2 separate regions of the Homo sapiens genome follow, and region 1 is linked to region 2. Evidence: fine-mapped expression QTL. A gene starts in region 2. The other region holds a variant in brackets. All regions are shown on one strand. Distances are from middle to middle.

Region 1 (15,341 bases), 28 kb before region 2:
AAAAATTAGCTGGGCACAGTGGGGTATGCCTGTAATCCCAGCTACTCAGGAGGCTGAAGTGAGAGGACTACTTGAGCCTGGGAGATTGAGGTGGTGGTGAGCTATGATCACACCACTGCACTCCAACCTGGGCAACAGAACAAGACACTATAAAAAAAATGGTTATGTTTTTAAGCCTCTAAACTTTGATGGTGTTTGTTGCGCAACAAGAGCTAACTGGTATGCCTGCATTCTGGACAATAGAAAGGGGGAGATGGGGAAATGGAGGACAGGCCTCTTCCATTTAATGGCTCTTCAAGGAAGTTACATTGATTGCTGCCACTTACATTTTATTGGCCAGAAGCAGTCACATGGCTGTACGACATGCAAAGGATTCTGGGAAATGTAGTCTTTTTTTTCTTTTCTAGTTAAGCATGTGCCTCGTTTGAAACAAACAGGAGTCTTACTACAAGCAAAGGGGAGGCCAGGCGCTGTGGCTCACACCTGTAATCCCAGCATTTTGGGGGGCCAAGGCTGGAGGATCATTTGAACTCAGGAGCTTGAGACCATCCTGGGCAAAATGATGAAACCCCATCTCTACAAATTAGCCAGGCTTGGTGGCACATGCCTGTAGTCCCAGCTATTTGGGGGTGGGGGGCGGGGGTGCTGAGGCAGGAGGATGGCTTGAGCCCTGGAGGTCAAGGCTGCAGTGAGCCAAGACTGTGCCACTGCGCTCCAGCCTGGGTGACAAAATAAGACTCTGTCTCCAAAAAATAAAAAAGGAAAAAGATAAAAAGAAAGGGAAGAATGGACACTGGGGAGTAAGTAGCTGTCTCTACCACAGAGCTTTAGATGAGGGGTTGCCGGAAGACTTCCTGAAAGAAGAGGCAGGATTTGGCAGGGTTTTAGAAGCCAGTCAAGGTAAGAGGCCACAAGCAAACTAAGAAGGACGGCTTCCAGCTTCCAGCTGAAGTCTTCCATCATTCCCGGGGGGCGTTGCCACGGGGACGGGATGACAGAAACTCCTCCTCTCCAAACGCCCTCGCCAGGGCAGAAGTCAAAGACTGGAAAAACTTTTCTTGGAAATCTCTGCCAACGAAGACGTAGAGGAACGGGTTGAGGCAGTTGTTGACACAGCCCAAGGCAAAGCTAGCCTGGAGGATGAGCAGCATCTGGGGGTGGTAGAATTCCTTGAGCATCACCCGTCGCCACAGATGGACCAACAGCATCACGTTAAATGGGAACCAGCAGATAAAGCGCTCACCAGCACCAGCAGCAGCCTCTTGGGCCGGTTGGCATGGACCCAGCCCTCCCGCAAGAGCTTGGCCCGGATGAGGTGGGCGCAGGTGCCTATGATTGCTAAGGGCCCCAGGAAGCCCAGCAGGAAGTGGGCCATGATCACCGCCATTTGTCTCCCAAAGACCTCCTGAGTCCACATCTGGGCAGTCTCATTCTCCAAGTTGAACTGTAAGTAGCACTGCATACAGCCATTCCATTTTCTGGTTGTCCGGAATTTCAGGTGCGCAGAGCACAAGGCGGCGGCCAGGAGCCACACCCCGAAGGCCAGCCAGCTCGCCCTCTGCTCAGTGCGGTGGTTCAGGGCCCAGACGGGGTAGAGGACAGAGATGCAACGGTCCACAGAGATGAGGACCAGGAGGCAGTTACTGGTGGAGAAGGTGAGGAACACAAAACCGGTGTAGAGTTTGCAGGCCCACTCTCCAAGGAGCCACTGCCTGGAGACAATATAGTACACGAGGATGGGCAGAGACAGTGAGAGCATGAAATCGGCAAGGGCCAGGTGGAAGAAGCAGACGGTGGAGACTGTGCGGGCCATGCGGAAGACAGTCACCCACGGCACCAGCCCATTGCCCAGCACTCCGACGACAAAGGAGGCAGACAGGACAGCCATGGTTAGAGGGCGGAGGGACCCCACTTCCTCAGACAGGCATCTGGAAGCATTCATCTTCCTGGAACAGGAATGACCCTGTGTCAGGGCCCCAGGTTGCCTGTCACTGCAGCCCCTGGTCCCCTCCGAGACCCCACTGATGATTTATTTCTCCATTTGATACTTTTTATGGAATGATTATTATTATTATTCTTTTTGAGACAGGGTCACATTCTGTCACCCAGGCTGGAGTGCAATGGTACAATCATAGATCACTGCAGCCTCCACTTCCTAGGCTCAAGAGATCCTCCCACCTCAGCTTCCTGGAGTAGCTGGGACTACAGGCACTTACCACCATGCCTGGCTAATTTTTTTAATTTTTTTTATTTATTTATTTTTTTTGAGATGCAGTCTTGCTCTGTCTCCCAGGCTGGAGTGCAGTGGCCTGATCTCGGCTCACTGCAACCTCCACCTACCAGGTTCAAGCAATTCTCCCGCCTCAGCCTCCCAAGTAGCTGGAACTACATGCACACGCCACCACGCCTGGCTAATTTTTGTGTTTTTAGTAGAGACGGGGTTTTATGATTTTGGCCAGGCTGGTCTCCAACTCCTGACCTCATGATCCACCCACCTCAGCCTCCAAAATGCTAGGATTGCAGGTGTGAGCCACTGTGCCTAGCCTTAGTTTTCTTTTCTGTAGAGATGGGGTCTTGCTGTGTTGCCCAGGCTACTCTTCAACTATTGGCTTCAAGTGATCCTCCCACCTTGGCCTCCCAGAGTGCTGGGATTACAAGTGTGAGACATTGAGCACAGCCTGAATGCTTTTTATGACCCAATAATACTGTTCTTTTTTCTTTCTTTCTTTCTTTTTTTTTTTTTTTTTGAGACACAGTCTTGCTGTGTCACCCAGGCTGCAGTGCAATGGCACGATCTCGGCTCACTGGACACAATAATATTGCTCTAAGTACCAGAGATAACTCATGTAACAAAACAAGCCCTCGTGGAACTTACATCCCAGTGGGAGATGTCAGGTATAATACATATAATAAATTAATTCATGATATACTGCTTTAGAAGATTGCCAAGTGTTATGGAAAAATAATAAGTAAAGTGGAGGGGGCCAGGTGTGGAGGGTCATGCCTGTAATCACAGCACTTTGTGAGGCTGAAGCAGAAGGACTGGATGAAGTCAGGAGTTCCAGTCCAAGGTGGCCAACATAGTGAGACCCAGTCTCTATAAAAAATAAATAATTAAAAATTTTTTGGCCGGGTGCAGTGGCTCACGCCTGTAACCCCAACACTTTGGGAGGTCAAGGCAGGCAGATCACCTGAGGTCAGGAGTTCGAGACCAGCCTGCTCAACAGGGCGAAACCCTGTCTCTACTAAAAATACAAAAATTAGCCAGGCATGGTGGTGCACACCTGTAATCCCAGGTATTCGGGAGGCTGAGAATCACTTGAACCTGGGAGGTTGGAGGTTGCAGGGAGCCGAGATCAGGCCACTGCACTCCAGCCTCGGCGACAGAGTGAGACTCCATCTCCAAAAAAAAAAAAAAAAAATCAAGTTAAGGAGAATTGAGAATGTGAGGGACAAGACGGAAAGCAGAAAGGGGACACTGGTACATTAAACGGGGTTGTCAGGGAAGACCTCAATAAGAATATAACATTTGGCCAGGCTCGGTGGCTCATGCCTGTAATCTCAACACTTTGGGATGCCAAGGCGGGAGGATCACCTGAGATTAAGGGTTCAAGACCATCCTGGCCAACGTGGTGAAACCCCGTCTCTACTAAAAACACAAAAAAATTAGCTGGGCGTGGTAGCACACACATGTAATCCCAGCTACTCGGGAGGTTAGGGCAGGAGAATCACTTTAACCCGGGAGGCAGAGGTTGCAGTGAGCCGAGATCACGCCATTGCACTACAGCATGGGAGACAGGGAGAGACTATTACAAAAAAAAAAAAAAAGAATATAACATTTGAGCAAAGTTTTGGAGGAAATGACAAAGTGAGGCACATACGTATCTGGAGGAAGAGCCCTTCAGGCAGAACCAGCAGCTTGTGCAAAGGTCCTGAGGCAGGACGGTGCCTGGAATGCTCAAGGAACAGCAGGGAGGCCGGTGTGGCTGGAGCCACGTGGGCAATGGGAAGAGAGGTGAGACGTGAAGGCAGAGAGGGAAGCGGACAGATGGAGCAGGACCCTGTGAGTCATAGTGCAGACTCTCCTGGCCTTTCCTGTGAGTGAGATGGGAGTTACAAGAGACTGTTGAGCAGAGAAGGAACAATATCTGACTTAGGTCTTAACAATCACTGTGACTTTAAGGTTGAGACTAGACTGAGGGGGTGGGATGGAAGCAGGAGGCCGGGAGGAAGCTGCTGCAGTAACCCAGGTGGGCAGTGATGGGGATGGGGACCAGGGTGATGTCAGAGGAGGGGGTGGGAAGCAGATTCCAGGGTCAAGGTGGAGCTGGCTAGATTTGCTGCTGGGCTGGATGTGTGAGGTGAGAGGGAGAGCAGTGTCGGGGTGACTGCAGGACTTTTGAACCGATGGAAGCTGGAGTTGCTGTGCACTGGGATGGGGGAGACTGCAGGAGAGCAGGTTTGGGGTAAGACCAGGAGCTCAGGTTTGGGGTAAGACCAGGAGCTCCGGGTTGGTCACTTCGCCTTTGAAATGCCTGTAAGACATCCCGGGGAAAGTTCACTTAGGCAGCTGGATACCGGCAGCAAGATTACAGGAGGGGGCCCAGCACAGTGGCTCACGCCTGTAATCCCAGCACTTTGGAAGGCCGAGGTGGGCGGATCACCTGAGGTCAGGAGTTTGAGACCAGCCTGGCCAACATGGCAAAACCCCATCTCTACTAAAAATACAAAAATTAGATGGGTGTGGTTGCAGGTGCCTGTAATCCTAGCTACTCGGGAGGCTGAGGCAGGGGAATCGCTTGAACCCAGGAGATGGGGGTTACAGTGAGGCAAGATCACACCACAGCACTCCAGTCTGGGTGACAAAGTGAGGCTCTGTCTCAAAATTAAAACAAAAAAATTACAGAGGGGTTCCTGGCTGGGTACGGGCATGTGGGAGTCAGAATTTAGATGCCAGCAGGGCACAGTGGCTCACTTTTCTAGTCCCAGCACTTTGGGAGACAGAGGCGGGAAGATTGTGTGGGTCCAGGAGTTCCAGGTCAGCCTGGACAACATGACAAGACCTTCCTTGTCTCTACAAAAAAATACAAAAATAATTTAGATACTATTTATGTCTTTGAACCTGAAAATGACCTCCGAGGGTGAGGTGCAGGCAGAGAAGAGAGGTCTGGGGTTGAGGAAAGCTTGAGCTTACACAGCAGACAGGCATAGGTCGAAGCTCTAGTTGAGATGCTGGATTATGACTGTGTGATCCTGGGTTCAGAGCTTTCTGCCCCCCATCCCCACCCTGAGCCTCAGTATGCTCGTCTGAGATAGAGGTGTAGAATCCTTGAATACCTCTGTCTCCTACTCCCCCAACACGCACACCCAATTCATCACAAAGCCCTGTCGATTTTGCCTCCAAAAAGCCTCTTGCCTCTGTCCACTATGTCCTGTCTCCACAGCCCTATCATCCAAGCACACAGCGCCCCAGCATTTTTTTTTTTTTTTGAGACAGGATCTCACTGTGTTGCCTAAGCTGGAGTGCAGTGGTACAATCTTGGCTCACTGCAACCTCTGCCTCTCGGGTTCAAGCAATTCTCCTGCTTCAGCCTCCTGAGTAGAGTAGTTGGGACTATAGGCACACACCCTGGGGACATGCCCAGCTAATTTTTATATTTTTAGTAGAGACGGGGTTTCACCATATTGACCAGGCTGGTCTTGAACTCCTGACCTCAGGTGATTCATGCACCTCGGCCTCCCAAAGTGCTGGGAGTACAGGTGTGCGCCACTGTGCCTGGCCCTCAGCTTTATATTCATCTCCTACCAGCCACTCACCACCCTACAGCTAGAGTGATCCTTTGAAAGCCCAAACCTTGTAACCCCAGCGCTGTGGGAGACCCAGGCAGGAGAATCACTTGAGGCCAGGGCTTCAGGACCAGTCTAGGTGGCAAGGCGAAACCCTGTCTCTACAAAATAAAAATAAATTGGCCAAACAGTGTGGCTTGCATTGTAATTCCAGCTACCCGAGAGGCTGAGGCACGAGGATCACTTGAGCTCAGGAGATTGAGGCTGCAGTGAACCATGACTGTGCCACTGCACTCCAGCCTGGGCAACAGAGTGAGACCCTGTCTCAAAAAAAAAAAAAATACAGTTCAAACTGGAAAATTACACTGTGGCTCTTCATTGCTTGTGGGATAAATATGAGTCTCCCCGGCACCACTGGTGAGAGCTGGGGCACCTGCCAGCCTCTCCAGACTTCTCTTGCACCTTCCCCCTCTTTGTGCACCAAATCCCGGCTTCCCTACCTTTGTGTCCATTGCCAAGATTCTCATCTCCCTCCCACCCCAGGGCCTTTGCATGTGCTGCCCCTCTGCCTGGAACACCTTTTCTTTCCTCTGCTTTTTTTTTTTTTTAACTCATTCCTGCGATCTCAGTGCAAATTTCACTTTCTCCCCAAAGTTTTTCCTGCCCTTTTCAATCAGACCCTCCTATAGGAGCTTCTCTCCCATGAAGAGATGATTACAGGCTGGGAACGGTGGCTCACACCTGTAATACCAGTACTTTGGGAAGCTAAGGTGGGAGGATCGCATGAGGTCAGGAGTTTGAGACCAGCCTGGCCAACATGGTGAGACCCCCATCTCTACTAAAGATACAAAAATTAGCTGGGTGTGGTGGTGCATGCCTGTAATCTCAGCTACTTGGGAGGCTGAGGCAGGAGAATCGCTTGAACCCGGGAGGCGGAGTTTGGAGAGAACTGTGATCATGCCACTGCACTCCAGCCTGGGTGATAGAGCAAGACTCTGTTGTCCCCCCGTTCCCCCCGAGCCCCCACAAAAAAAGAGCTGGTTACAGGCAGCAGCAATTAGACCGCGTTTGTTGGATCATTTGGTGATCACCCATCTGCATTATTCATCTCTGAGTTCCCTAGAGGCGAGGCTGGTGTGTGGCTTGCTCCTGGCCCCTGGAACACAGCAGGCACTTGGTAAATAATCGATGAGTGATCCATTAAGGAGGGCAATCTCTCCTTTGTCATCTGAGGATGGATTCATTCATTTAGTGTAAAATTATGCATTGAGCCCAAATTGTACACCAGACACTATCCTAAGCGCTGGGGGTACCGCAGTGATGAAGACAGTCAAATACCTCTGACCAGGCACAGTTCACGCATATGGCATGAGAACATTCCTCACCCAGAGGAGGTGGCCCAGAACTTTCAGCCCCTTTTTGCCACCTCTTTTTTTTTTTTTCTTTTGAGATGGAGTCTCACTCTATTGCCTAGGCCGGAGTGCAATGGCACGATCTCAGCTCACTGCAACCTCTGTCTCCTGGGTTCAAGCAATTCTCCTGCCTCAGCCTCCTAAGTAGCTGGGATTACAGGCAGCTGCCACCACACCCGGCTGGTTTTTGTATTTTTAGTAGAGATGGGGATTCACTATGTTGGCCAGGGTGGTCTCCAACTCTTGACCTCAGGTGATCCACCTGCCTCGGCCTCCCTAAGTGCTAGGATTACAGGGGTGAGCCACTGTGCCCAGCCCACTACCTCCTTTTTGTATACCCTGGAGAGTGCCCTTCAACTCTCCTAATCCCCAAGCTCCTACCTCCTGGCTCCCTGAGACACACCCCGCAACGAATCCCGGTCCCGTCACCTTGTGCTGTGTCTGAGGGTGAGGCAAGGTGAGGGGGCTCTTTCTGTCTCTGTCGTCAGTCCCAGGTGGCCGCCAGCCTTGAGCCCACGTTAAAGGTAGGGGGCTGATGGCAGGAAGCTAGCTGTGAGTTTTGGAGCAGATAAA[C/T]GTCCAGGAAAGAACCTTGAGCAAGAGCTTCAGAGATCGCTATCAGTCCGGGAAATGTCACCAGATGTGGGCCCTAATAATAGGCCCCAGGGGCTGCAGGCTTGGGGCATAAGGAGGAGGCGGGTGCCAGGGAGGTCTTTCCGCAAGGCCATTCCAATTCTCCTCTGCCCTCTTTGTGCTAATGAAATTTGTTAAGAGATACAAAACACTTAAAACTTCTTGCGGCCGGGCTCGGTGGCTCACGCCTGTGATCCCAGCACTTTGGGAGGCCAAGGCGGGTGGATTACCTGAGACAAGGAGTTCAAGACCAGCCTGGCCAACATGGCGAAACCCTGTCTCTACTAAAAATACAAAAATTAGCCAGACATCAGGGTGGGTGCCTGTAATCCCAGCTACTTCGGAGGCTGAGGCAGGCGAATTGCTTGAACCTCAGAGGTGGAGGTTGCAGCCGGTCGAGATTGAGCTACTGCACTCCAGCCTGGGCAACAGAGTGAGATTCATCAAAAACAAAAACAGAACAAAACAAAAAAAACTTCTTGGCACATAGTAGGTGCTCAAGCATTGTTAGGTCTCGTTATTAATACTGCTATAGTCCTGCTTCGATTAACATCAGGAATAAATTCTGAGAGATGTATCCTTAGGTGATTTCATCATTGTATAGATATCATAGAGTGTGCTTACACAAACCTAGGTGGGAGAGTCTGCTACACACCTGTGCCAGATGATCTAGCACAGGGGTCTAGGCCATAGCCCAAATGCGACCATCTATTTATTTTTTGAGACGGAGTCCCACTCTGTCACCCACACTGATTTGCAATGGCACAATCTCAACTCACTGCAACCTCCGCCTCCCAGGTTCAAGCGATTCTTCTGCCACAGCCTCCCAAGTAGCTGGGATTACAGGCATGCACCACCACACCTGGATAATTTTTGTATTTTTAGTAGAGATGGGTTTTCACCATGTTGGCCAGGCTGGTCTCAAAACGCCTGACCTCCAGTGATCCGTCCACCTCGGCCTCCCAAAGTGCTGTAATTCCAGCTACTGGGAAGGCTAAGGCAAAAGAATCACTTCAACCCAGGAGGCAGAGATTGCAGTGAGCCGAGATCACACCATTACACTCCTGCCTGGGTGACAGAGCAAGACTCCATCTCAGAAAAAGAAAAAATGTAAGACACAAACACACACACATCAGCCTAGGCCTATGCAGGGTCAGGATCATCAACGTCACTGTCTTCCATCTCCACGTCTTATCCCACTGGAAGATCTTCAGGGGCAATAACACCCTTGGAGCTGTCGTCTCCTAGGATAACAGTGCTTTTTTCTGGACACCTTCTGAAGGAGCTGCCTGAGGCTGTTTTGACAGTTAATTTTTCCCTTTCCTTTTTTTTTTTTTTGAGGCAAGGTCCCACTCTGTTACCCAGGCGGGAATGCAGTGGCACAGTCTCAGCTCACTGCAGCTTATGCCTCTCAGGCTCAAACGATCCTCCCACCTCAGCCTCCTGAGTAGCGGGAACTAAGGCACACACCACCACACTGGGCTAATTTTTACATTTTTTTCTTTTTTGCAGAGACTAAGTCTCACTATATTGCCCAGGCTGGTCTCGAACTCTTAGACTCAAGCAGTTAACTTTTCTTTATAAGTAAAAGGAGTACACTCTAAAATAACAATAAAAACTATAGTACGGTGAATAAAGGCCGGCCGTGGTGGCTCATACCTGTTTCCCAGCACTTTGGGAGGCCAAAGTGGGTGGATCACTTGAGGTCAGGAGTTCGAGACCAGCCTGGCCAACATAGTGAAACCCCATCTCTACTAAAAATACAAAAAGTATTCGGGCATGGTGGTGCATGCCTATAATCCCAGCTACTCAGGAGGCTGAGGCAGGAGAATCACTTGAACTGGGGAGGCAGAGGTTGCAGTGAGCCAGCCTGGGTGACAGAACGAGACTCCATCTCAAAAAACAAACAAAGAAACCTATATATAGTAAATATATACACCAGTAACATAGTTGTTTATTGACTTTTTTTTCTTTTTTGTAGAGACAGGGTCTCACTATGTTGCATGGGCTGGTCTCGAACTTCTGGCCTCGAGCGATTGCCCTACTTCAGCCTCCCAAAGTGCTGGGATTACAGGTGCGAGCCACCATGTCCTGCCCGTTGCCATTGACAGGTATGATGTACTGTACACAATTATATGTGCTATGCTTTTCTATGACTGGCAGTCAAGTAGGTCTGTGTACACCAGCATCGGCACAAACATTAGAGTAACGCCTTGAGCTACTCCATTAGGACAGCGACAACATCACCGGGCAATTGCAGTCTTAGCTCCATTATAATCGGTGGGGCCACCGTCGGACGTGCAGTCTGTCATTGACAGAAACCTCGTTATGCTGCACATGGCTTTATTCCCTCGGGAGAATGCTGCGGCCTCAGCAGTAACATTTCACTGACTCTAAGGCACATCATGTCAACAGGTGTCACCAGAAAGACAAGATGTTGTAACCAAGCGAGTTAGAGAGAAATGCCACACTTTGAGACAAATTATGGAGTCCTTTATTAGCCAGCGACTGAGAGACAGCTAGCGCTTAGAATTCTCTCCATCTCGAAGAAGGGGCTAGATTCTCTTTTATACTATGGTCTAAATAGAGGAGGGGGAGTTTAACTGAAGTAGTTTTACAGAAGCAGAACAGGCAAAAAGTTAAAAAATTAATTGGTTATGGAAGCAGTTACAAAAAATAAACAGTTCCAGGTGCAGGGGCTTAAACTATCACTAAGAGATAAATGCAGGGGCTTTTAGGTACCTTCCACCGAGCAGGAGCTGCTAATACAGGCTGCCTCAATATCTTATCAGCAGGTGCATTCCTGGATGTGCTTGGTGTCAGCTTGCACTAGTTATTCCCTTAAGGGGGATACGGGGGGCCCCAAGTGAAGAAACCAAAATGGAGTCTGTCCAGCTCTCTCTGCTAGGAGACAGTCACTCCGGTTAAAACAGGGTAAGGTATCACAAAGACACAGCCTAAAAAATGCAATCCAATGCTTATTTTATTTTATTTTATTTTTTGAGTTGGAGTCTCGCTCTCTCGCCCAGGCTGGAGCACAATGGTGCGATCTTGGCTCACTGCAACCTCCACCTCCCAGATTTAAGCGATTCTCCTGCCTCAGCCTCCCGAGTACCTGGGATTACAGGTGGGTGTCATCTCGCCCAGCTAATTTTTGTATTTTTAGTAGAGACGAGGTTTCACCATATTGGCCAGGCTTGTCTCAAACTCCTGACCTCAGGTGATCCACCTGAGGCCGAGGCAGGCGGATCACTTGAGGTCAGGAGTTCAAGACCAGCCTTGCCAACATGGTGAAACCCCATCTTTACTAAAAATACAAAAATTAGCCGGGCATGGTGGTACACACCTGTAGCCCCAGCTACTCAGGAGGCTGAGGCAGGAGAATCGCTTGAACCCGGGAGGCAGAGGTTTGCAGTGAGTTGAGATTACACCACTGCACTCCAACCTGGGCAACAGAGTGTAACTCTGTCTCAATAAATAAATAAATAAATAAATAAATATTTCAGCATCAATTTCCAAAAGAAAGGACCCCTTTAAGAGAAATACAGTTACCAGGCATGGTGGCTCATTCCTGTAATTTTAGCACCTTGGGAGGCCAAGGCAGGCAGATCATTTGAGGTCAGGAGTTCAAAACCAGCCTGGACAACATGGTGAAACCCCGTCTCTACTAAAAATACAAAAAAAAAATTAGCCAGGTGTGGTGGCGGATGCCCGTAATCCCAGCTACTTGGGAGGCTGAGGTAGGAGGGCTCTGCTGTTGTGGGATGACGGAAGATTCACGAAAAACAGGTAAAGGAGTGGGCAGGGCTTTGTGCCAATAAAACTTTATTTATGGACACTGAATTTTGAACTTCACATCATTTTCGTGTGTCGTGAACATTATTATCCTTCTTTTGATTTTGCTTAACCATGAGCTCACCGACTGCCCCAAAACAGGCAGTGCGTCAGATTTGGCCTGGGCGGTGGGTCATAGTTTGTGAAACCCAAGTAGACGTCAACCTGGTGTTGCTTTAAAGAGTGCATGTGAAGGCCGGGCGCAGTGACTCAGCACTTTGGGAGGCTGAGGCCAGCGGATCACTTGAGGTCAGGAGTTAGAGACTACCCTGGCCAACATGGTGAACCCCATCTCTACTAAAAATACAAAAAATTAGCCAGGTGTGGTGGCGGGTACCTGTCGTCCCAGCTACCCGACAGGCTGAGGCAGGAGAATCACTTGAACCCAGGAGGCGGAGGTTGCAGTGAGCCGAGATTGCGCCACTGCACTCCAGCCTGGGTGACACAGTGAGACTCCATCTCAAAAACAAATAATAATTTAAAAAATGAAACCAGTTCCTTTTCTAAGGGCAACACCGGGGAGAGCTGGTGAGATGACGGTTGTTCTCCCCAGGCTGTGCTCTGCCTGGATTTGGGGATTACCTCCTCCCATGGTGAAATTCTAAATGTATTTCTCCTGCTGCACACAACATTCAGCCTTTTTTGCTTTGTTTTGGTGGCCATTCTGGTATTTTTTTCTCCTTTTATTTTAGATTCAGGGGGTACATGGACCTGGAGAGAGAGAAAGAGAGAGAGAGATATATAAAATAGTTATATATATTTATAGATATAGAATATTATATATAATAGTTATATATATTTAATAGATATATAATATATATATAATGTTTATATATATTTATAGACATAAATATTATATATAATGTTATATATAATAGATATATATTATATATTTATATATAATAGTTATATATTTATAGATATAAATATTATATATTATATATATTTAATAGATATATATTATATATTTATATATAATATTTATATATTTCATAGATATATATTATATATTTATATATAACATTTATATATATTTAATAGATATATTATATATTTATATATAATATTTATATATATTTAATAGATATATATTATATATTTATATATAATATTTATATATATTTAATAGATATATATTATATATTATATATAATATTCATATATATTTATAGATATAAATATTATATATTTATATATAATATTCATATATATTTATAGATATAAATATTATATGTTATATATTTAATAGATATATATTATATATTTATATATAATAGTTATATATTTATATATGTATGTTTGTGGGGCGGGGGCAGTGGACAGAGTCTTGCTCCGTCACCCAGGCTGGAATGCAATGGTGCAATCTCGGCTCACTGCAACCTCCGCCTCCGGGGTTCAAGTAATTATCCTGCCTCAGCCTGCCGAGTAGCTGGGACCACAGGCATACAACACCTCGCCCGGCTGATATTTGTATTTTTAGTAGAGACGGGGTTTCACCACGTAGTCCAGGCTGGTCTCAAACTTCTTACCTCAGGTGATCCGCCCACCTCGGCCTCCCAAAGTGCTTGGATTACAGACGTCAGCCACCACGCCTGGCCGACCTGGGTATATTACGTGATACTGAGGTTTGGGTTACGAATGACCCCACCACCCAGGTACTGAGCGTAGTCCCCTACAGTTGGTTATTCAACCCTCGCCGCCTCCCCCTTTCCGGTCTCTAGCAGTCGCCAGTGCCCATTTTTCCATCTTTACATCATGAGTACCCAATGTTAAGCTCTCACTTATAAGTGAGAACATGTGGTATTTGGTTTTCTGTTCCTGCGTGAATTCCATGAGGATAATGGTCTCCAGCCGCATGCATGTTACCACAAAGCACAAGATTTCATCCTTTTTTTTTTGAGACGGAGTTTCTCTTTTGTCGTCCAGGCTGGAGTGCAATGGCACGATCTCGGCTCACTGCAACCTCCGCCTCCCAAGTTCAAGCGAGTCTCCTGCTTCAGCCTCGAAAGTAGCTGGGATTACAGGCATGCACAACCACACCCAAATAATTTTGTATTTATGGTAGAGATGGGGTTTTGCCATGTTGGCCAGGCTGGTCTCGAACTCCTGACCTCAGGTGATCCACCCACCTCAGCCTCGCAAAGTGCTGGGATTACAGGCCTGAGCCACCGTGCCCGGCCCCCAGCTTTATGTTCATCTCCTACCAGCCACTCACCACCGCTGCTCTGCCGGCTCTGAACCTTTTTTTAAATCATAGTACCTCACGGTGGTTTATGGCATTATTACCCAATCAGTTCTTGGCAAATTTAAGTGTTGTTTTTTCCTCCCTAACTGTTTTGCATTAAAAATAGTGCTGTAAATAACACCTTTGGGGATGAAAATTTTGTCCGTGTTTAGGATTCTTTCTTTCTTTCTTTCTTTTTTTTTTTTTAGACGGAGTATCGCTCTGTCGCCCAGGCTGGAGTGCAGTGGCGTGATCTCGGCTCACTGCAAGCTCCGCCACCCGGGTTCACACCATTCTCCTGCCTCAGCCTCCCGAGTAGCTGGGACTACAGGCGCCCACCGCCACACCCGGCTAATGTTTTGTATTTTTAGTAGAGACGGGGTTTCACCATGTTAGCCAGGATGGTCTCGATCTCCCGACCTCGTGATCTGCCCGCCTCGGCCTCCCAAAGTGCTGGGATTACAGGCGTGAGCCACCGCGCCTGGCCTAGGATTTTTTCTTTGGTCTCGATTCCCACAAGTGGACCCCAAGAAAGAAAAGATCTTGTCTCTGTCACCCAGAAGGTCCTGACAACCCTACAACCGAGCAGGAGAGAGGCTGCGCCGGCCTGCCACACCGCCCCGGGGATTCCTGTGAGATTGTTTCCTGCTTGTTGATGGACGGGGTTGGATTTTGATTTCTTGTGTGCAGGAACGTCTTCCTGCCATGATGGTTGGCCACTCCCTCTCTTTACGATTTGCAAACGTCTCTCCGTGTCTTTTGCCCACTTGCCTACTGGAATCCAACTTTGTTCCTTTTTTATGTGGTTTACATGATAAGATTATTGACGCTATTTCTGTCGCAGGGAATATAAGTTTTTTTCCAAGTCTATTTCTTGACATAATTTTAGTGAGAGTTTTATACACAGAGATTTTGATTTAAAGGCTGTCAAATCGGTCTCCTTAATATGAGAAAAAAGAGAAAAAATTAGTTAGCATTTTTAAATAAAGGCATAATTTGCATACAGCACAATTCACCCTTTTTAGGTGCAGTTCTGAGGTTTTGGCAAATGCACGCATCACGTGACCACCCCGTAACCAAAACACAGAACAGTTCCATCACCGCAAATCCCCTCACACCCCGTTACGGCTCAAGTGGTTAAAACGTAAGAAAGCTAAAAGAATAGATGTGAATAGGCAATTCTTTTCTCCGGGTTGCTCTATGTTTTATGATATTGAACCCTAATTTTTGTCTTTTTTTTTTCTTGAATAAAACCGAAAATGCTAAATGAGGGGGAAATTGCAGCTCAAACTAAAATTGGTAGTTAAAGAGTCCCCTGCCATCCTCGTTCTTCCCTCAGATAATGAGAATTGTTAACAAGTTCATATTTTTCTTTTCGTTTCTTTCTTTCTTTTTTTAGAGATGAGATCTTGCTATGTTGCCCAGGCTGGTCTCAAACTCCTGGCCTCCAGTAA
Region 2 (15,341 bases):
AGCCAAAGAAGGAGGCCTCAGAAGAAACCAACCGTGCCAACATCTTGATCTCCAGACTTCCAGCCTCCAGAACTGGGAGATGATCAATTCTGCTGTTTCAGTCCCCTAGCCTGTGGTACTTTATAAGGGCAGTTCGAGACAACGAATACGTGTATTATTACTCCAAAGCCCAAAAAACAAGCAAAACTAAATAAGATGTTTTTTGGGAAACATACACACATGCTAAAATAATAATGAAAATCAAGCAACGGCGAAACACAAGTCAGGATGGTAGGTACTGGCGAGGGGGATGGGAGAAGGCGTTTAACAGTAACGTCCTATTCTTTTTCTTGTCTTTTTTTTTTTCAGACAGGGTCTCCCTCTGTTGTCCAGGTTGGAGTGCAGTGGCATGATCACAGCTCACTGCAGCCTCGACCTCCTGGGCTCAAGCAATCCTCCCACCTCATCCTCCCAAGTAGCTGGGACTTCAGGCTCTTGCCACCATGCCAGGCTAATTTTTATATTTTCTTTAGAGACAAGATCCCACTATGTTGCCCAGGCTGGTCTCAAACTCCTGAATTCAAGTGATCTTCCCGCCTCAGCTTCCCAAAGTACTGGGATTACAGGCGTGAGCCACCCTACCAGGCCAGGAGCATCTTTTGTTATTCATAATAAGCCCACATCAGCTGAATCATCAATGGGTGCGAAATCAAGGGGGAAATTTTGATGAAAGGCAGATACTGCCTGTCTTAAAGTATCTGCCCCTGGACTGCTTATTAGCTGCAAAGGAGTATTATAGAGCTGGGGAATGGGACATCAGCTCGCTGGGTGATGAAAACTCACTTCACTAATGAGGCACAGTAGGACACTGACTATGTCCAGATGGGATACCTTCAAAGAAGTACACACCTCACCTCATTATTCTGGTGGAGAATGTATAACTTGAATCTAATCATCATGGGGAAACATCAGACCGACTAAAAATGTGGAACTTCTATTTTTAAAAGGGCAAGGAGCTGTTCTTCCAAAATGTGTGTGCATATATATATATAAAATTTTTTTTTAGACGGAGTCTTGCTCTGTTGCCCAGGCTGGAGTGCAGTGGCGTGATCTCGGCTCACTGCAAGCTCTGCCTCCTGGGTTCACGCCATTTTCCTGTCTCAGGCTCCCGAGTAGCTGGGACTACAGGCGCCTGCAACCACACCCGGCTAATTTTTTGTATTTTTAGTAAAGATGGGGTTTCACCATGTTAGCCAGGACGGTCTCGATCTCCTGACCTCGTGATCCACCCGCCTCGGCCTCCCAACCTGCTGCAATTACAGGCGTGAGCCACCACGCCCGGCCACCAAAATGTCAATATTATAAATATGGAAATGTTCCAGATTCAAGGAGGCTAAAGAGACATGACAACTGGCTGGGCGCGGTGGCTCACAACTGTAATCCCAGCACTTTGGGGGGCCGAGGCGGGTGGATCACCTGAGGTCAGGAGTTCAAGACCAGCCTGGCCAACATGGCGAAACCTTGTCTCTACTAAAAATACAAAAATTAGCCAGGTGTGGTGGCAGGCACCTGTAGTCCCAGCTACTCAGGAGGCTGCGGCAGGAGAATTGTTTGAACTGAGGAAGTGGAGATTGCAGTGAGCCGAGATTGCACCATGGTTCTTCAGCCTGAATGACAGAGCAAAACTCCATCTCAAAAAAAAAAAAAAAAAAAAAGACAAAAGAAAAAGGAAAGAAAGATGGGAGAGAGAAAGAAAGAAAAAGAAAGGCAGCAAAAGAAAAGAAAAATTATATATATATATATATGAGCTAAAGCCAGCTAATACTATAAAAATCTGGCCTGCCCTTCATCTATAGACTGAGATAAAGCCAACCGCAAGGTTAACAGGACACATTTCACCCAGGGGCGAGCTGCAGCAGTAAAAGTGTTCTAACAGCCCCCTTTATGAGCGACTACTGCTATCTTACTCACTGAGAAACTTTGTTCTCTAAAATCATAGACTGTGGGAAACTCTGCGGTATGAAAGTCTATCCGTAAGAATGAAACAGACTCATCTTTCTTTCCTGGAAGATCTGTCACTTTGACAAAGATAAGAAGCCTCCATTTCCAGCCCTGGTGCAGAGTTTTAAATAAAAAGTTTCTGGGCACAGCATGCCACATTTATATTAACATTGTAGTTTCCAGGGAAACAAGACCTTAGGTCCACTTTGCAGTCCAAATCTGATATTTCCTTTTTTTTTTTTTTTTTTTTGAGACAGGATCTCGTTCTGTCACCCAGACTGGAATACAGTGATACAATCATAGCTCACTGCAACCTCAAACTCCTGGGCCCAAGCAATCCTCCCACCTCAGCCTCCCAAGTGGCTGGGACTACAGGCGTGTGCCACCACACCCAGATAATTTTCTCCTCCCCTTCCCTCCCCCCCTCACTCCCCTCCCCTTTTCTCCCCTCCCTCCCCTCCCTCCCTTCCTTCCATAGAGATGTCACCCAAGCGGGTCTTGAACTCCTGGGTTCAAGCGATCCTCTTGTCTTGGCCTCCCAAAGCACTGGGATACAGACATGAGCTACTGTATGCGGCCCAGGCCTGATGCTGACTCCCTTATACACATTCCTACCTTGTTCTAAACCTAGCTAAACATTGTTTCACTTAAATTTCATCCAAATTTCTCTCTTCTTCCAAATCCTATAACTTGATTGCAGCTTCTCCTCTGGGGGCTGATCGCTCTCATTTCAGTGGGTCAACAAACCTGACTTTGTCTTGCTTGTCCCTGATGATTGGGCTAGGATGGGTGGGTGGGTGGGTGGATGGATGGATAGATGGAATGATGAAGCCAAAGCAATGAGGTAAACTGTTAACAAACAAATCAGAGTAGAGGATTTGTTTGTACTCCAGTGTTTATATTTGTGTAGGTTATCTATAAGTTTAAAATTATTTCCAAATTAAAATTGTCTGGTTTTTTTGTTTTTTGTTTTTGTTTATTTTTAAGGTGCACGCCTGTAGTCCCAGCTACTCAGGAAACTGAGGCGGGAGGATTGCTTTAGCTCAGGAGGTCGAGGCTGCAGTGAGCTATGATTGTGCCACTACTGCTCTCCAGCCTGGGCGACAGAGTGAGACTCTGTCTCAAAAAAAAAAAAAAAAAAACAGAACCTGAAAATAAATAGAAAAGAAAGAAACTAAGTTGGTTTGGACCAGTGGTTAGCCACAAAGAAATTTTATATTGAATTTTATATTGTTAATTCAGCATATCGACGTTTAAATTTTGAAAAGCGTCTTACCATTTTCTATGATACTAATATTTCATACGAACTTTTTTCACTTTTTAAAAAGTGGTTATGATCTACCCAAGGAAATGCACCTGTTTTGAAAAACTCTCGTCTGAGAGATCCAAACGTGAGTTGAATGTTAAGGCTTCGCGACTTGGGGTTTTCCTACCCGTGGGCGCGTGACAGGACTACATTTTCCAGAGTACCTCGGGGCGAGGCCTGGGTGGAGAGGAGGGGTCTGAGCTCTGATTGGAGACTGCGGAGCTCCGACCTCACCGCCAAGGCGTGGCCCTCAGGCTTGCGGGGAAAGGCAGGCGAACCTCACATGGGAGGAGGGGGCGGGGCTTGCGAGGTGACCCGTAGGAGTCATCCGGTTACTGCGGAAAAACGTGGTGCTGGTAAGGCGGTGATGCGCCTGCTGCTCGGCCTCCTGGGCTTTATCGCCCTGCAAGCCCGTGCGGCCGCTGGTTCTTCCTCCTCCGTCGAATCATCCCAGGCCTCCTGCCCTTGTTCTACTACTTCCCTGGGATCCCTTAATGCATCTATTCCAATCAGCTGCCGAGGCCTCCCCTGGTCCATGGCTCTGGCCTTGCACACTACCAGCGCTCCGCAGAGAGCCAGGGAGAGGACATTGGCAAACTCTGGCCCGCAGGAAGTCTGGGGGGGCTTCCTGGAGGAGAGAGTAGGTTTCCCACGCAGACCAGAGTCAGGAATCAGCGCCGAATGCCACATATAGGCGTGCTGTTCTGATGCATAAACCGTCCTTGCAGGCACGCCACTCCCCACTTCAGACCTCTCTCTCTGCATGCCCACAGCTGGCCCTGTGCTTGGTATGATAGCTCCAGGCCCTGCCAGGGAGACAGACATTGTCTGTCAGACCAGACAGTGGCACCTAAAGTGATGTGGAAAGCCCTGGACCCTACGGGAAACTAGAGAAGGTGCCTCACCCAGCCTTGGGGAGGCCAGGGAGGAAAAGCAGCCGAGATCCGACTCATCTCAGGGTCCCCTGCATGATGCCACACAAGCATCTTCATTCAAAGGGCTCCCATATGCCAGGCGATGCTGGGGACAGAGATAGTCATACCTTGTCCTGCCCTCCCCCACGCACCTGGAGTGTCCCTCAGCCTGTCTGATCAGGGCTGGGTCAAGAGAGGAACAAGGGGTTTGTGGATACCAAAGGGGATCCCTAACCCCGCAAGGGGCTGGGGGAAGGGCTGGTTGTTGGGGTGATGTGTTATCCAATTCTTGGAAGTGGGTGTTTACCCTAGAGAGGAGGGAGGATGGAGATCTTTGCATATACAAAAGCACAGTGTCAGGAGAGAGTACAGAGAGATGAAGGTGAGGTTGAATTGCCCTGGTGAAGCTCAGATCTGGGAACTGCAAAGACCCCTCTGTGTCTGGTACTATTCTAGATCAATACTGTTATTATCCCCACAGTACAGATGGAGACACTGAGAAGTAGCAAGGTTATGTCTCACTCAGGTTCTCCCAGGAGATAAGTGGCTGAGGTAGGATTGGAACCTGGGCCATCTGGCTCTAGAATCTGGGCGGGTAGCCATGGTGTACCATGCCCAAATACTTTCCAGAATGGAAGCTCTGCCAGGGCAGAGACCCCTCTGGGAAATAATAGATACTCATCATTGTCTGCCTAATCTGACCTCTGGTTGGCTATAAGATCTAGGGCTGCCTATCCCTCCCCGGGGAAACTGAAGCTCAGCATGAGAAGAATTTCTGATGGAAGGCTGACTCCAGGCCACACCCCCACTCTCCTATTCTGTATTCCTCTGGGGATGTGGGGCTGAGAAATGTCTCCTGAAGGGAGAAGGGTGGGTGATCTCCCCTCTATCCAAGCTGACAGTGATGGCTTGCTCCTCCCATGTGTGGATCCAATGGTCACCCTTTAGGCAGTGGTGCAATGGCTGAAGGAAGGGAAGGGGCAGAGTGGTAAGGACAGACAGGGTCACATCCCCATTCCTAGGCTCCCTGATGTCAGGGTCACGCCCATGATGCCAACCTTGGGGGAGGTACTAGGGTGATTTCCAAAGAGCCTCTCCTCTAGACAGAGCTGGCCACTATGCTGAGGCCCCGGCTGGCGGACTCCTGGGTGTCTTCACTGCCCCCAGGGAGTAAAGGTATGAAAAATGGTGAGGGAGAGCCAGGCACTGTGGCTCATGCCTGTATTCCCAGCCCTTTGGGAGGCCCAGGAGGGCAGATTGCTTGAGCTCAGGAGTTCAAGACCAGCCTGAGCAACGTGGCGAAAACCAACCTCTATAAAAAAATACAAAAATTAGCCAGGTGTGGTGGGGCGTGCCTGTAGTCCCAGCTACTTGGGGGGCTAAGGTGGGAGGACTGCTTGAACCCAGAAGATTGAGGCTGCAGTAAGCCATGATTGTACCACTGCACTCCAGCCTGGGCGAAAGAGCAAGACCGTGTCTCAAAAAAGGAAAAAAAAAGGTGAGGACGGAAGGTAGTGTGTGGCTCAAGTTCAGCCACCACCAAATGCACACTGTCCTGGTCTCACCTGAACATCCCAAGAGCCGCACAAAGTAGGAGGGATTGTGCCCACGTTCAGATGAAAAACCCGAGGCTCACAGAGGGGAAGGGACTGGCTCCTGGCCTCACTGGCAGGAAGCAGAGGAGGGAAAATTGGGAGGAAGTCTAAGCTTCAGGGTTGGGTGAGTCCTTAAGTCCATGTCTCAATATATCATCCCAACAAGTCCATGAAACCATATCATCTGGGGAAACAAATTGGACACGCCACTTAAACAAATTAAACGGGCTCTTTCCTGCCGGACTTGTCAGAGCCTTTAGCCCCTTCACGTTTCCCAAATCTCTTTGACCAGGACCAAGACCAAGGCCTGGGACAACTGGCAGGCCCTGGGTCCCAAAGGCCGAGAGAGAGGGCACGATGGAGGTGAAGGTGTCTACAGCGTTTGTACGCGTGTACTCCGGCCATCTGTGCACAGAACAGATGACCGTGTGTACATATGCACCTGTGTTTCTCCATCACTCCATCTGGGGCTCAAATGACATCTGTAAAAAGCAGAACAGGCATCCAAAGGCCAGGACACGCGCCCAAAGACCAGGGTCTGGCCCTTCCCGGCTTCCCCTGCAGGAGATAAAGTCCAAGACTGCCTTCACTGCCCCTCAAGTCAGATTCCACAAGGATTTATTGGCACCGGACCTAGCCTGGTGCCCGCCCCTTCAAGGAAAGACACTAACAAGGAGGAGTGCCGGCACCGCAAGAGCCCTCCCAGAAGCGCCCAGACTGGGGGTCGGGGAGGACGCTGCCATTCGTGGCCAGGAAGGGAAGGGAGATTCCGGAGGAGGGTGGGCACGGCGCAGGGAAAGGCCGGGTGGTGGGATGGGCAGGGAGGCGGGGTACCGGCCCCGCTAGAAGGGGAACTCGCAGACGTAGTAGAGACGCCGCTGGCAGTCGTGGTCCCACCAGGAGCCGTCGTCAGAGGCCTGCGCCACGCAGTTCTCGAGCGTGCCACCGTTGGGCTGGTCCGGGCTGAGCGGATGCGGCGAGGCGCTGGGCTGGGCGCCGAGCTCGGGGCGGGGTGAGCGATGCCAGGCGAAGAAGGACACGCGCTGGCCGTTTTCGAAGAGGTAGAGGCCCTCGGCGCGCCGATCGTGCACGCCCAGCCACACGGGCCAGTTGTAGGGAGCGAGCGCCGCGCGCAGGTACCGAGTGAGCGCCTCCATCTGCTGGCGGTCTGCCGGCTGCGCCAGGCTCCCGCCCCGCGCCGTGCACCGCGCCTGCGCCGCCGCCTGAGCTTCGAAGTCGCGCGAGAGCAGGAAGCACTTGTGGCCCAGGCGCAGCCCCTTCAGGCAGCCTGTGGGCGGGGCCGGGTAGAGAAGGAGGCGGGGTCATGCATTCAGAGTCTGGAAGGGGGCGAGGACAAAACATCCGGGGGTGGAGGGAGGCGGGGCCAGGAACTCATGGGGAGGGCTGGGAGGAGGCGTGGTCAGAACCGCGGGAGCCAGGAGGTGGAGAGTCTGGTCCGCCAGGGGCGGGGCCAGGCGGTGGGAGCTGGACTGTAGGGGGCGTGGTGCTGCCCCAGTCGGGTCCGCGCGGGTCTGGAGTGCCCACCCGCTCCCTGCATTCAGCCTCCCAGCTCTCTAACCCCGTCCGCTAGCACACAGCAGCTCTCCCGAACTCTCCCGCCCCGGACACCTAGGGTCACCTTCTCAACCAGTCCCATTCCTGGCCCAGATAGTCTCATTTTTTTCCACCCCGCGCGCCGCGGACTCACCCTCCAAGCGGCCGTGCTCGCGCTCGGCGCGACCCTGCGCCTCCTGCAGGGCTTGCACGGCATCGCGGGTGTCGCCTGCCGCGTTCCGCAGCTGCCGCAGCCCCTGGGTCAGCTCGACCACGCGGGTGTCCAACGCGTGCAGACGGACGTGCAGCTGGTGCAGGCCTGCGTCCAGGCCGGCCAGGCGGCCCACTGCGGACAGACAGGGATCATGCTGGAGGGGGAGCCTGGAGATGCAGCGGGGGGCCTGAGGACCTGGAGAACTGGGATCTAGGGCTCCTGAGGGCGGGGTGGCGGTGGGGGGGGCACCCCGGACTCCTGGAAGGTAGGGTCGAGTGGCCCAGGCCTTTAGGAGGCATGGCCGTGGACCTGGGGCTCCTAGGGGTGTGGGGGCTCTGGGCTGGGCAATGGACAACTGAAAGGCCACTTGGCAGTGAACCGACCCTTCATTTTTGCGAAAGTGACCGCGGCGGCCTAGGAGTTTGGGGGTGAGGGCTTCTGGTTACTCACGGATGTAAGTGACGATGTCCTCAGGGGTGGGAGAGGGGCTGGGGCCGGAGGATGGGGTTGGCGTTGCTTCCTCCTCCTCTTCCTCCCCCTGGTCCTCCTCCATCTCCCAGTCCTCTTTTCCCTCAACAGTTCCGGCAGGATTCTCATCCCCCCTCCCAGCAGGCAGTCCTAGGGCTTCCTGCAGATGCTGGGGCAGGGGAGGGGTGGTGAGCCCCAGCCTGCCACCAAGATGCCCCATTCACCCCTTTCCAACTCATAACTCATTCTCTGCTGCCTGAGTCCTGTCTCTGAGCCCATCACCCTCCCACTCCTCTGAGACTATCCCAATCGCTCCTCATTGTCCATTTCCCTAACCTTGCAATACCCCCTCCCAGACCCACAGTTCACCACCCATAGCTCCCTGACACTCCAGAGCTCACCTTCAGCATCAGGGCCTCCCTCTCCCGCTCCTCCTCCTGGGCACCTCCCCAGCCTCCCTCCCACTCCCTCTCTGCTCCCCGAGCCCCATGGCCAAAGCCCAAGAGCTGGGGGACCACCAAAGCCCCCAAAAGCCAGGCTGCCTGCATTAAGCTGGACTCTTGGCACCCAAAGTTCCAGATGTCTGGATGTCTGGGGTGGGAGGGGTGGCCTCTGGGAACTGCCGAGTGCCCCTGCCCTGTGTGCAGGTCACTAGCCCCCAGGTTCCCGATTCTCCCAGCTTCTCTCTTCCTGTTCCTCTCCTCGTCTCTGTCCGGTCCGTTGGTCTCCTCTGCTTCTCTGTGTGTGTCTCTCCCCGCCCCTCTTGGCTCCCCGGAGGCCCTGCCTCTGTGGCCGGAAACCTCCAACGTTCCAAAGCCTAGATCCCGCCTTGGGTCTCCTCGCACACCCTCCTCTTTCCACTTTCCAGAGCTCGCTTCCGCCCTGCTCTTTCCTTCTGCTGTAGCCCAAAGATCAGATAATCAGGAAGAGGATGGAGCTGGCTCTCCAAGGAATCTTGGAAAACACAGGCCCCGGCCTCAGCCCAGGAACCCGCTCAGAACCATCTCGGCAGTGGTGGGATGCTGGGACCGAGCACTGCTCCCTTCTTCCCTGCCTGGCCATTCCTAAGGAGGGGCAGACCTCAGGGTCTCGCTGAGGTTGTTATTACCCTGTGGCCACCATCGCCTGCACACTCAATGGAGGAGACTCCAGGGCCCCTCCTGCCCCCTAGATTGCCCATCCTACCCTCCAAGCCCTTGTCTGGAGATCCAAGTGAGTGTGTGTGGGGGCAGGGTGACACATGTGAAGAGCACGCGTGTGACTGTGTGCATGACCCTGGAAGACGGGGCTCGGGGATTAATTGGCCACTTTACTAGAAGCCTCCTGCAGGCCAGGCTGTGGGCTGGGTGATGCTGGGGACTCCAGCTGCTTGCAGACCAGCAGCCAGATAGCTCCGGGGATGAGGGGGCTGGAGATGGGAGAGGGTGAGGAGTCTGGCGGAGCAGTCAGGGAAGGTTTCTCCAGGAGGTGAAATCGACAGACGCTAGGTTGTGTGCTCAAGGAGCTCTGAGCATTCAGCAAGCCACCTCATTTCAGCCTGGACCACTGCAGTCTCGCCCTCCCCCTCCTTCCTCCTGAGCCCCTCCAATCCCGGCTGCTTGCCGCAGCCAAAGCAATCCTTCCAAACCATAAATCAGATCACATCACTCCCCACTCCCCTGCTCCCCCACCTTCCCATCATAAGCAGGAGGGAAGCCAAGCCCGGGCCTCAGTCCTCAGCGCAGCCTACCATGCTGGGGGCTGGGAAGGAAGAACCCTTTGCACCTCTGCAGCCTCATCACCCCCATTCCCTTCACCCACCCCCAGCCTCCACCTTCCCTGGCCTCTTGGCTCATCCCCAAATACTAAGCTGATTACAACCTCAGAGCATTTGCACTAGCCCTTTCCTCCTTCTAGAAGCCTCTTTCCCCAGCTCCTTCTCATCATCGAGGTCTCAGCTCCAGGAGGTCTTCCCCAACCACCTTATCTATTCCGCAAGTTACTTTATTAAAATGCCCCATTTCATCTTTTTGGTATAATCAAGACTGGCATGATCTTGTTTGTTTATGTCTGTTCCCTGCCAATGAAAGCAGGGATTTTTATGCACTGATGCATCTCCTAGCACAAGGCCTACCTAGCACATAGTAGGTGTTCAATCAACCTGTTGAGTGGGCGAGAGGGTAGCCGTTCCTGGTGGGGTCAAAGGCCTGGAAGCTTCACCTCTTTGGTTTGCTGGCACCCAAGTTCCCAGGGTGGTGGTGGCAGGGTAGGTAGAGGTGGTGAGGGCAGTGGGAGAGAGGCTTGGAGGCAAGGAAGAACAATGCCATGCCATGCCCCTCTATGTCAGGCCCATGAGTCATGCAGGGCTTTTCCCGCCCAGGCCTGGCTGGTGGTGCCAACAAGCATGGGGCACACCAGCCAAGGATCACTGGGCCTGCTCTTCAAAGGAGGAGACCGAGGCTCTGAAACAGCATAGCCTGCTGGAGGTCACCAGTGTGGCGGCAGCTAGCCAAGGTTTCTGGCTCCAAGAGCAGGGCATCTGCCCTCGGCTGCCGGGAGCCCCAGGAGGGGCCTTGGAAATCAGTGCCTCCAGCCTTCCGTTTTCCAAGAAATCCTGGTACATCGAGGGCACTGTGACCTTGGGCAGACTGCTCCCTGCCTCAGAGCCTGGGCCTCTCAGGTGCCCATCGGGAACCTGGGGCCCCTCACCAGGAGCTACAGACCTCAAGAAATAATGCGTATGTGGGGAAAGGCCTTGTAAAGTGTGCAGGGGTGCACAGCCTCTCTGGCTGCTGGAGCCAACATGGGCAGCTGTGCTTTCCCCGGGCCCAGCTGCTCACCACCTGGGCTAGTGGGTACGCATCAAGATAGAGGCCTCCCCAGGCTGAGCAGGCACCTCCTCCAGCTCATACTCGGGTACCCCGGAGAGCCTGCAGCTGGAGGGGAACCCAGAAGCTGCCTAGAACTGCCCCCTGCAGGCCCTGGAGGTGCTGTTGGAGCTGGGAGAATGAGGAAGCCTGGGCTAAGGGGACACTCACCACTCACTGCTGCCCTGTGGGATCTGCTCTGTCCCTGTGGGTGCGTCCCAGGCATGAATGAGCTGTCTGCCTGCAGCTGGCTGCATATGCGTGCCTACACAGACATGTGCAAACTCTGAGGAGACGGTTGGGTGTGTCTGTGTGTGATGAATAAGGATATGCAACTATGAGGGGATATGCCCAGTAGTGCACCATAGTTGTCAAGTGAGGACTTTGGAGCCAGCCTACCTGTTCCTGATCCTTGTTACCACCTCCTTACAGCTGGATGACCTTGGGCAAGTTACTTAGCCTCTCTGTTCCTTGGTTTCCCCCTCTGGAAAATGGGGATGGCGAAAGTCCCTGAGCCTGGCACACAGAAAGTGCTCCAGGAATGTCAGCAGTAACTATCCTGGAGGGGAAGGATGGCACGGTGTTGGGCATGTAAACGGGTGAGTGCGAGCCAGTGCAATGGACAGCACGGTGGGTGGGTGTGATGGGAAGGCGTGCACACGTCTCTACAGTGCTGTAACTCCGTTTTGGTGTTGAGAGATCTGGGCATGCATACCGGGGTGAACGCCTGTGTGCGTGTGTGCGCGCGCACGTGCGTGTGTGGTGGGCAAATGTGTGCATGTGCTGCGTGTGTGCCCGGGCACAGGGGTGTGACAACTGCATGTAGCTGGGTGTGTTTGTAGCTGTGTACCCCAGGTGCATTGTGTCTGGGCATGCATGCGCTGGAGAGTGTGTGTATGTGGGGACTCTGCAGGTGCCGTTACAGCTGGTGACTATGCACCTGTGCCTTGGGGAAATGTGGCCTGGCCCAGGTATGTCCACGTGTGCCCTGACCCAGTGCTTAAATGGAAAGGGTGTGTGTGTGTTTGGGGGGACAGGGTGGGAATCTATAGCCTTCACACTTAAATTTGGGGGTGTAGAGTCTGGCAACAAATATTTATTGTGCCCCACTCTGTGTAGGGCGGCGGGGAGCTCTCTGGGAGGGGGTGGTCCTGAGGTGTGTGTGGGGGGGCACCTTATGGGGGCAGGACCCCTTCCTCGGGGTATGGGAGCAAGCAGGGGCGGAGTCAGGATTTGGGGACTCGGAGGTGGGGAGGAGTGGTGGGGGAGGGCAAGGGTAGGGGGCGGAGCCGGCGGTGGTGGGGGATGGGCGAGGTTTGGGGGCGCGGGGAGGGGCGATGTCTCCTCCGCCGGCTCCCGGAGGGAGGGGAGAGGGCGGAGGGAGGGGAGGGAGGGAGAGAGGGAGGGAGAGAGACAGGGTGAGGGAGAGACAGCGAGAGCGAGAGAGCGAGAAGGGTGGCAGAGGAGGCGCGGAGCGGGCGGCGGCGGCGGCGGCCCGAGGAAGAGGAGGAGGAAGAGCAGGCGGAGACGCGGCGCCCGGAGCCGGCCGGACCGAGCCGGGGGCGGGCGAGGAGGGGCGCGGCGGCCGCGGCGGAAGGGGGGGCGCTCTGCGGATGGCCAGGCCCGGCCCGCGGGGGGGGTGAGGTCCTCGGCCCTCCCGCCCTCCCCCCCGGTCCCCGCCCGCCCCCTCCCCGGGCCCGCTCGCCCTCCGGGGCGGTGGGGCATGGCCTGAGGGTCCCCGTCTCCGGGGGGGTGGGGGGTGGGGGGAGGGGGGAGGGGCCGCGGGCGCCGCCGACCGGGACTCAGCAGCCCCGCCAGGCAGGTAAGGGGGTCGAGAACCTGGGGGTTTGGGGCAGCTGCGGGGCCGGGGCCGCGGGAGGGGGCGAGGGCGCCCCGGATGTCCTTGGCCCGGCGCCGGGCTCCTGGCCTGGGTGTGCGGCTGGGGGTACGGGTGAGGTGGGGAGCGTTGCCCTGGGCGACACCAAATTGGGTTACGCCCGGGTCCCCGGTGCCCCGTCCCAGATCGCATCCTTGATGGGAGGGCGCGCCCCCCACCCCCGGCCAGCAGAGCCCCTATCCCGAACCCGCCTCCCGGCTCTCCGGGGCCAAGGGCTCGGTCCTGGTACCCGCCTCCCCGCCCAGCCCGGCCACTCCCCCGCCTCGCCCTCCCTGGCGTACCTGGGCCCCTCCGCCAGGTCACCCTGGTCCCCACTCCCCTCCAGCGAGGGTCTAGGCCCGGGCCTCCTCCGCCCCTTTCGACCCCTCCAGCTCCCGCTTCTCCTTCCAGGCTCCTCCAGTCCCTTTCCACCCCTGTCCAAGCTCCCTGCGTCCCCACCAGGTCTCCAGTCCCTACACCGCCGGCCGGCGCGCCCCCTCGGCTCCCGCCCCCGACTCCTGCTCCCCGGTGCCCCCCGCCCCTCTCCCCGGCCGGGTTCTCCCCCACCAGTTTCCCAGCCTCGGCTCCGGCTCTCTCTCCCCGCCCCTCCCCGCCTCCCTCCGCCTCCATTCATTCTCCCCGGCCCCGCTCTCGGCCACGCCAGCCGCCCCCTGTCCCCCCACAGCCTCCCAGGGCACCCCCTCTCTCGCGTCCTCCACCACCCCCCTCGCCGATTCCTCAGCCCGTCTCGGTACCAGCTGCGTGCCAGCTATTCTTAGCCGCGGAGCGTTTGATTCATGCCGCCCCGGCGGAGCGTGCCCGCTCCCTCCCGCGAGCCCTGAGGGGGAGGGGCCGGAGCCGGCCCGGGGGGGCTGGGGCAGCCGTACGCGCGGGGGGCCCTAGCCAGCTTTTCTTTCATCCCACCGGCCACCCCCTCCGAGCGGGGTTGAGGCTGGGGGTCAGCCAGGGTCAGCCGAGGGGGAGTGTCTGCGGGCCCCAGATCGCGAGGTGGGCTGTGCGGCGGGGCAGGGAGGAGGCAGCCGGGGTCTCCGCAGGGACGAGGTGGGGCGGCGTGGCTGGGTACCTGGAGGGGGAGGGGGCTTCGCAGCGCTGCCGCGCGTGGGGGAGGGGTCCGCCGGCCCTGGGTTAGAGGCTCGCTCGCCCACACCTCCTGGAACTCTCCTCCCACCACACACATTTAGTCTTCCCTTTCCCAACCCCCCAGCCCATCCCCACTCCCCCAAAGTCAGCAGTACCCTCCACTGCTTCCCATCTCCATGGCAACGGTGCAGGAACCGGGCCTGGTGTTGGGGGGAGGGACCAGACCAGACATTCTGGTTTCCGGTGCTGGGGTGGGAGTTGGGGGAGAACAGAAGGGAGGCGGACCCCATTTGGAAGGGGCTCCACCCTCATAAGGCCACCTCAAGGGAGAACAGCAAGGATCTAGAGATGATCCCCCACTCAGTTCCCCAGACCCTCCTCTCACTTCTTAGCCTCCCTCCTAACACCCCCAGTCCTCAGAGTGGAGCCCCTAGTACCCAGCAAGCCAGCCCACCCACCCTGCAGTCCTAGAAAAGAGCTACAGGTCATCTGCAGCCACCCACATCTACCCGGGCCACCACACCACTGTCACCTGGACAGCACTCCCCAGGCCGACCTCCCCACCTACCCGCACACCCTCTCAAGATGCCCCAGTCTCCAAAAGCCACCTCTTGTGGTTCCCTTGGGGACACCCTAGGCCAAATGCTCTGCCCATGACACCCCCATCTCAGTGCCCCTTGCTCCCCTGGGACGGCAGATTCCCCAGCACTATTCGGCATGCCACGCGTTGTCAGCCACACTTGAGTGAAGTCACCAGCTCCACCCGCTCCAGGCTCACCACACCTCCCTCTCCCCCTTACTACATCTCAGTGTCAGCCTCAGCTTCTCCCCAACCCCACCCCCCGGCCCTGGGATGAGGGGCCAGGCTGGGGCCAGGAGGGCAGGATGCCTGTCAGTTTGTCCACCTGTCTGTCCTTAGCTAATTTTAGCTGCATTTTCTGTGGCCTGGCAAAGTGGGCCAGTAGCTCCCGCGGTGATTCTGCGGTTTCTGGGACACGGCCACGCTGGGTCACCAGCAAAGTGGGGCGCAGGGGGCGGGCTGCAAGCGGGGCCAAGGGCAGGGAAGGAGACACATGCCAGAAGCATGTCAGGGACAGGGGTGTGTGCGTGCCAGCGTGGGAGGAGGCGGCAGGGGAGGCCGTGCAGGCCGAGGGTGTGTCCAGCCTCCTTCCTGCCTATCTTGGGCAGTGGGGGTAGGCTGCCCTTGACCGCTTGACCACCGAATAGCGCCTGCGGCCTCTGAGGGGTCCCGGGCTCCTAGTCTGATGGCCGCCCTTGGCCCCTGCAGCCGCCTGTGATGCTGCCGTCCCCCGTCGCCCCGTGGCCCCACAATGACCCACAGCCCCGCGACAAGCGAGGACGAGGAACGCCACAGTGCCAGCGAGTGTCCCGAGGGGGGCTCAGAGTCCGACAGCTCCCCAGACGGGCCAGGTCGAGGCCCCCGGGGGACCCGGGGCCAGGGCAGTGGGGCACCTGGTAGCCTGGCC

Evidence for each region. PIP is the estimated chance that this variant, and not a neighbour inherited with it, causes the effect.
Region 1: its variant is fine-mapped to the expression of CLEC11A in whole blood (INTERVAL, PIP above 0.99).

What each region holds. Positions count from the first base shown.
Region 1 is chr19:50,745,059-50,760,399 of GRCh38, reverse strand. It overlaps the pseudogene GPR32P1. Among named protein-coding and RNA genes, the nearest start is that of GPR32, 18 kb to the left of the region's middle. The variant C/T (reference allele first, on the strand shown) is at 7,773.
Region 2 is chr19:50,716,764-50,732,104 of GRCh38, reverse strand. CLEC11A (C-type lectin domain containing 11A) reads right to left here and starts at 8,741. Exons shown (of 4, transcript NM_002975.3): 1 at 8,433-8,741; 2 at 8,014-8,200; 3 at 7,504-7,695; 4 at 6,397-7,083. The coding sequence starts at 8,579. The coding sequence ends at 6,638. It overlaps SHANK1 (SH3 and multiple ankyrin repeat domains 1), which reads left to right and starts at 12,303. Exons shown (of 24, transcript NM_016148.5): 1 at 12,303-12,699; 2 at 15,143-15,341. The coding sequence starts at 15,186. RefSeq lists a cis regulatory region at 3,234-3,953 and silencers at 7,173-7,232, 7,273-7,392.